Linked DNA regions of Homo sapiens: region 2 is linked to region 1. The links come from fine-mapping of genetic effects on plasma protein levels. A gene starts in region 1. The other region holds a variant in brackets. All regions are shown on one strand. Distances are between the middles of the regions.

What was found. PIP is the chance, under the fine-mapping model, that this variant and not a neighbour inherited with it causes the effect. Protein levels are from antibody-based Olink assays in UK Biobank. Linkage for the fine-mapping came from a reference panel and not from the study's own genotypes, which makes the PIPs less certain.
Region 2: its variant is fine-mapped to the plasma level of the ADGRB3 protein (UK Biobank, PIP above 0.99).

Annotation. Positions count from the first base shown.
Region 1 is chr6:68,633,377-68,636,405 of GRCh38, reverse strand. It overlaps ADGRB3 (adhesion G protein-coupled receptor B3), which reads right to left and starts at 1,124. Exons shown (of 32, transcript NM_001704.3): 1 at 406-1,124. It overlaps LOC127898563, which reads right to left and starts at 516. Exons shown (of 1, transcript NM_001414704.1): 1 at 439-516. The coding sequence starts at 516. The coding sequence ends at 439. It overlaps ADGRB3-DT (ADGRB3 divergent transcript), which reads left to right and starts at 2,082. Exons shown (of 2, transcript NR_125872.1): 1 at 2,082-2,221. RefSeq lists a silencer at 1,176-1,385.
Region 2 is chr6:68,958,631-68,961,130 of GRCh38, reverse strand. All of the region lies in intron 8 of ADGRB3 (adhesion G protein-coupled receptor B3), which reads right to left. Among named protein-coding and RNA genes, the nearest start is that of ADGRB3, 320 kb to the right of the region's middle. The variant C/T (reference allele first, on the strand shown) is at 1,407.

The DNA of each region.
Region 1 (3,029 bases):
TCTCAAAACTGATTTTCTGGGTGACACTTTAGTTTAGTCGAACATAGACGGCGCCATCACTCCACAGATTTTTCCCCCCAATAGAAGACCCACTGCCTTCTCTTAACTTCCTTTTAACCTAAAATTTTCCCCTCATAAAATTACCCCAATCACACAAAACTGCCAGATTTTCTAGGTCTCTCCGCTTATTCCTTCTGACCCAGCACATCTCTTGAAAACCAGACTTCTCTAACTTTTCAACTGCGGCGTTTAAGTAAATGCAGACAGTCGGATCTGCTCACAGCCTCCCCATCCGCCAGCAACAGCCTTTCCTTTCATTTTCCTCCCTTCTCAAACATTAAGCCCAAAGCTCCACGGTGGCGACCCCCGGCAGAGAAAAGGTGACCCCTGGACCCCCTTCCTTACCTTCCACTCCGAAAGCTCAGGGAGGCTCTTGCTCTAAGACACCAGCACAGGCACGCGTCCCAGCAACAGTGACGGAGAGACTCCCCTTCGGTCCCAATCACCGTTGCCCATTTTCCCCGGCTCAGCTTCCAAAATCAGGATTTATTTTTAAAAATGCATACATACGAAAAGCAAAAGGTGGGGGGTGGGAACCAAAGGGGGGTCGATGAGAGAGAGGAAAAAAAAGCCAGCAGGAGCCCAGAACCTTGCGCCGTATCCAACTGAATCCAACCTCCAAACCGAGGGGGGCTAAAGGGAGGGAGAAGCCCCCCCAAGGGAGACTCTAAGGAACCCCCCAAAATGTAAGTGGCTTAATAGCAAAGATTTGTTTCATAAAAGCTACCCCCAACAAACCAAGAAGCAAAGAAAGCGCTGAGACGAGAAGTGACCGGCGGCGGCGGCGGCTGCTATGGCAGATTTGTTGGGGCGGTGGGTTTATTACAGGAGTATTCGTGGTCGGATCGGAAGGCTCAAGCTTATGCTTTTTCCTCTTTCCGCTTTCCTCCCTCCTCCTCCTCCCCCCTGCAGGTACTGATGGACGGACGGCGACTAAGGAGAGCGGGGAAAAAAATCCTTGGCTGGTGATGTCGGAAAGCTGTTTGAATGCCCAGCGAGGAGGGAGGCGCGAGAGGGAGCGAGATAGTAAAGCTCTGTCTCGGGTGTGCGCGCCGGCGCGCAGTGCTCGCTCTCCCTTGGGCGCGCGCGCGGGGGGTGCGCGTGTCCCGGGAGCGCGTCCGCGCGGCGGCCTCCCGCGTGCTCGTGTGCGCGCGCGTCCCGGGTGCCGCGCGCCCTTCTTATGCACAGCTGCGGTGCGCCCCGCCGCCCGCCAGAGGCTCGGCTCGCGCGGCGCGGCCGCTGCGACTTCCTGGAGTTCTGCCTGCCGGGGGCGCGGGCGGGTGTGTGAGAGAGAAGGCGAAGGGAGCCGCGGGGTGGGAGAGGAGGGAGTCCCGGCGGGAGGGCGGGGGAGAGGCTGGCGGGAGGGGGGCTCCACGGAGCTCCAGCCAGGGCCGCGGTTCGCCTGCACGTCACGGCTACTCAAACCCAAGCACGTCCCGAAAGCGGTATTTTCTGCGTCTGGGAGGTTTTTGCATCCTCAGTTCCCACCGCTGGGGCTGGCGGCGACCAACTGTAAGAGAAACTCACTGGGAGGCGAGGCAGGGGGGTGCGGAGGATGGGAAGGCGACTCTGAAGGGTGGGAAGTGAATGCTGGACTTGATCGTCTTTCTCTTTCTTTCAGCGCAGACCTGTCGCAGCCAGAGAGCTGTCATTTCAGTACCGGGATTCAGAATTGATCCAGTCCGCAGCGGAGGGGGCACATCCCAGCTACCGAGCTGCTGAGTGTCTCTGGCTGGAACAATAGTATTTTTTTCTCTGCGAGGCTGCAATTAACATCTTATTTGTTCTGGCTCCATACAGGCTTTGTCAGGATCGCGGTGCGGCGACCGACGTTGGGCTCTTGCATTGCTTTGTGCTTGGCAATGGAATCATGGTTTCGGGGTCTAAACTTTTGTTTCGTTTTGTAGTCTTAATGTATCTGATTCTTTTTCAAGTTTCCCTAGTAACAGGTTTGGGGACGGGGTGGGAAGAAGCGAGAAAAGGGGTGAAGAGAAAAAACCAGATTATATAGAAAGGAAAAAGGGAAAAGGGATGTTTCCCCACCTTTTAATCTAACTATCTATCTGTCTGTCTATCTATCATCATAGATAGTCATTTTGCCTCCTGGACAGTTGGCTGACGAAGTGTCTGATAAACCAGCTTCAGATACATGCTACAAAAGGTCATTCGCCTCCTGATTATGTTTCTACTTGTAAACGCAGTTGGTGGTTTGCAAAACAAGTGCTAAAATAGTGCAGTGATGTGGTGGGAGGAAACCATAATGGGTAATTCATATAAAGTGCTGGAATCTTCGTAAGGGTGAGTTTCTCGAGCGGCAGGTGAAGTTGAATAAAGCAATTTTCCATCATTTGTTCCCCTCACTCTTGCATTTTTTTCCTCCGCTTGTTTCTCTCCCCTGGGGCGATTATGGATAGCCAAGAACACCATTTTAAAAGAGATTGATAGTGAAAACAGGAAGTTTATGGTCTGTTATCCACTGGAGTTGTTTGAAATATTAAAATTGGTCCTTTACTTCTTAATGCATATTAATAGAGTGACCCTCTTCAAGGCTTTCCCGTCTTAAACGAATGCCTGGGATAAACACTGTAAGGGGAAACAGTTAATAATTCCCCAGCAGGCTTTAACTATTTTCCCAGTAACAAATCACCGGCAAGAGAGCAGCCTGGGTGGCATTTTGGTTTTGTGTCATTTTGGTTCTTTACAATATTTTTTATTCATTTAAGGAAATGTTAAAAGGAAATAATTAGGGTTTATGTCCAGAACAAATTTTGAAACACCGTTTAAGCAACACATTTTCTTTTAAAAACAAAGAACATTGAGCAACACAAAGGAGAAAAACATTTTATTTATTTCAACTTCCCTAGAGATCGTAATTATGATTTTCGCAAGGCAATTTGGTCAGTTCTGTTACTTTATCCAGAGGAAAAAAAAGCATGACAGATGTGGAATAAAAACGGAGGAAAAAATGC
Region 2 (2,500 bases), 320 kb before region 1:
ACATGAGTTGGCTAGAGGCATTCAAAATGAATTGTGTTTTCATTATCAACCAATTCCAGAAAGAATCCCTCATCGTTTATGAAAAAGGATGAAAAAAATAAAATTTTGCAATTTTGTTGAGGTGATATTTCAACTTTCTCCAGTGGAACAGAGGTAGAGGACTGTATTCCACTTCTTTGTTAATTTTATCACCTTATCATTATTATTTTTACTATAAGTTAGTGCAACTGAAAGGATGATTTGCAGACCAGCATCTTCAGCATCACCTGAGACCTTCATAAAAATGCAGATTCTCAGGCTCATTCAAGACCTACTGAGTCAGAATGGCTGGTGGGGTCTGGCTCAGGAATCTGTGTTTTAACAAGCTCTCTGGATGATTCCTATGTACACTGAAGTTTGGGAAGCACTGCTTTGGACAATGAGGGAGGCACTCAAAAGAAGATAGGAGTGCAAAGTAGGCAAGCTTTGTTCTTCTTTCCTACTGAAGCTAAGTTAAAAGACAATTACTTAGAGACCAAAGGAAGACTCTCCTGGTCTCCAGAGGAGGCATAATCCTGTTGGAGAGCAACCTTATACAAATAAGGAACCGTCACTTCCAGAATCACATTTTTCGTAAGCAGGGTGGGGATGGGGATCACATTCGCTATATTATAGGGCACCAAATCCTAATACAAGTGTATTACAGTGTTCAAGACAAATTTTGCATTACCAACACTACGGCTGCCCTCCTTTAGTATGAATATTTATAGATAAACATCACAATAATTCCTACATTTCTGGTCTAAGTTGCTAATATTGTATACATTTATGATATGGCTGACTTACTTCACAAGTGTTTATCAGCACATTTAACCTGGAGGCCTCACCCACCACTTACAGACAAAGCAGCTGTGGTTCCAAGAACGAAATTTTATGTATAAATAAAGTGTAATTTTTACTTGTAAATGGTAGGTTCCAACTTAGCAGTTAATGACTAAAGAGTAATGATCCTAGAATTGGAGTTATAGAAGTAGCAAGCCCTTCTCCTGGGAGCAGGGCAAAGTGGTTCCTACGAAGCTAGAATGTAAACTTAGGACAGTCCAGCAGTAACACTTGCTTTCTGAATATTATTAACCAGGGGAATATTGGGGTGAAAATCAAACTAAAAACCTAAAAAATATTATGTATGACATTGTAGCAATTAATAAAATTAGGGGAGCTATTACCATCCTACCATTTTAACCTTCAAAGCCTGAGGATACACAATGAGATTGAGATAAATGAAACCATTATCTGGTGAGTCTGACCAATTTAAAAATTGGACCACTTATTATCTTCCCTGTAGCTATTCTATAGCCCAACTAGCATTATTTTTAAAAAATGTTTTCTTATTTCTACAATTATTTTTTATGAAAACAAAAGAAATA[C/T]ATTTTTTGTCATCAATGATGACACTTTTAATACTTTTATTTAATCTATCTACCAGCAAAGAAATATCCTAATCTTGAGGGGAAAATAGTTTTATTTTTCATTTTCAGTAGACATCATAACAGCTTTAGATTAGATCCAGATGATTAATCATTATTTTCATTAATTATTCAAACAAAGATGTTCATATATATTTCTCCTTCCTGACAACAAAAGGCCTCTTAGTAAACTTGATTAATTTGTTTTGACTCCAAATTAAGTGAAGTATAAAATAAACAGTAGTTGTTTTCAGCAACTTGAAGAAAAATTAAGAATGAATAGACTAAAAATAATACTAGAAAAAGCATATTGTTTAAAAAAATTGTTGAAGCTTTGTTGTTAACACAAAGACAAAGATGCCTTAGAAAAATGTTATGGTAATTTGAAAGTTTTCTCAATTTATATTGTCAGTGTGTAAATTTGAAGCAATATAATGGCTGAAATTAGGAACGCTATACTCATAATCACAACAGTAATACACATTGACTACAGAGAGGACATTGAACAGAGTTGGAACTCCAGTATATAAATCAAGTACAATATGGAAAACAGTTATCAAAAACTTGATAAAATAATTTGGGGATGATGTGACTGCACATAAAAAGTTAAATAATTAATATGAAAGAAAAACCCCTTTTGTAAATTAAAAAAATTCTCTAAGAAAGCAGAGGTATTTTTGAAATTAACAGTCACACACAATTTCTGATGGACAATGCAATTTTTGTTTATATAAATGCACCAGACAAGGATATATTCAAAAGCTTGGTGTATATGTACACACACACACACACACACACACACACACACACACACACACTATTTTTCTTTGCCCCTGTATAAGTAGTGATGTTTAAATTATTTAGCTGATTCAAGAATTCTTTTTAATTATGAAAACGGTATCTATATGCTTGTAAGTAATTTATGGTTATTTTCATCTCATATAATTGAAAAGAGTAAAATGAAAATGTTAATAATAACAAAAATGTGTAGTGTATATAATTTTTTTTTTAGTTTTATGTGATATTTTTTTAACCTGCCTTAAGTCATGAAAGCCAGC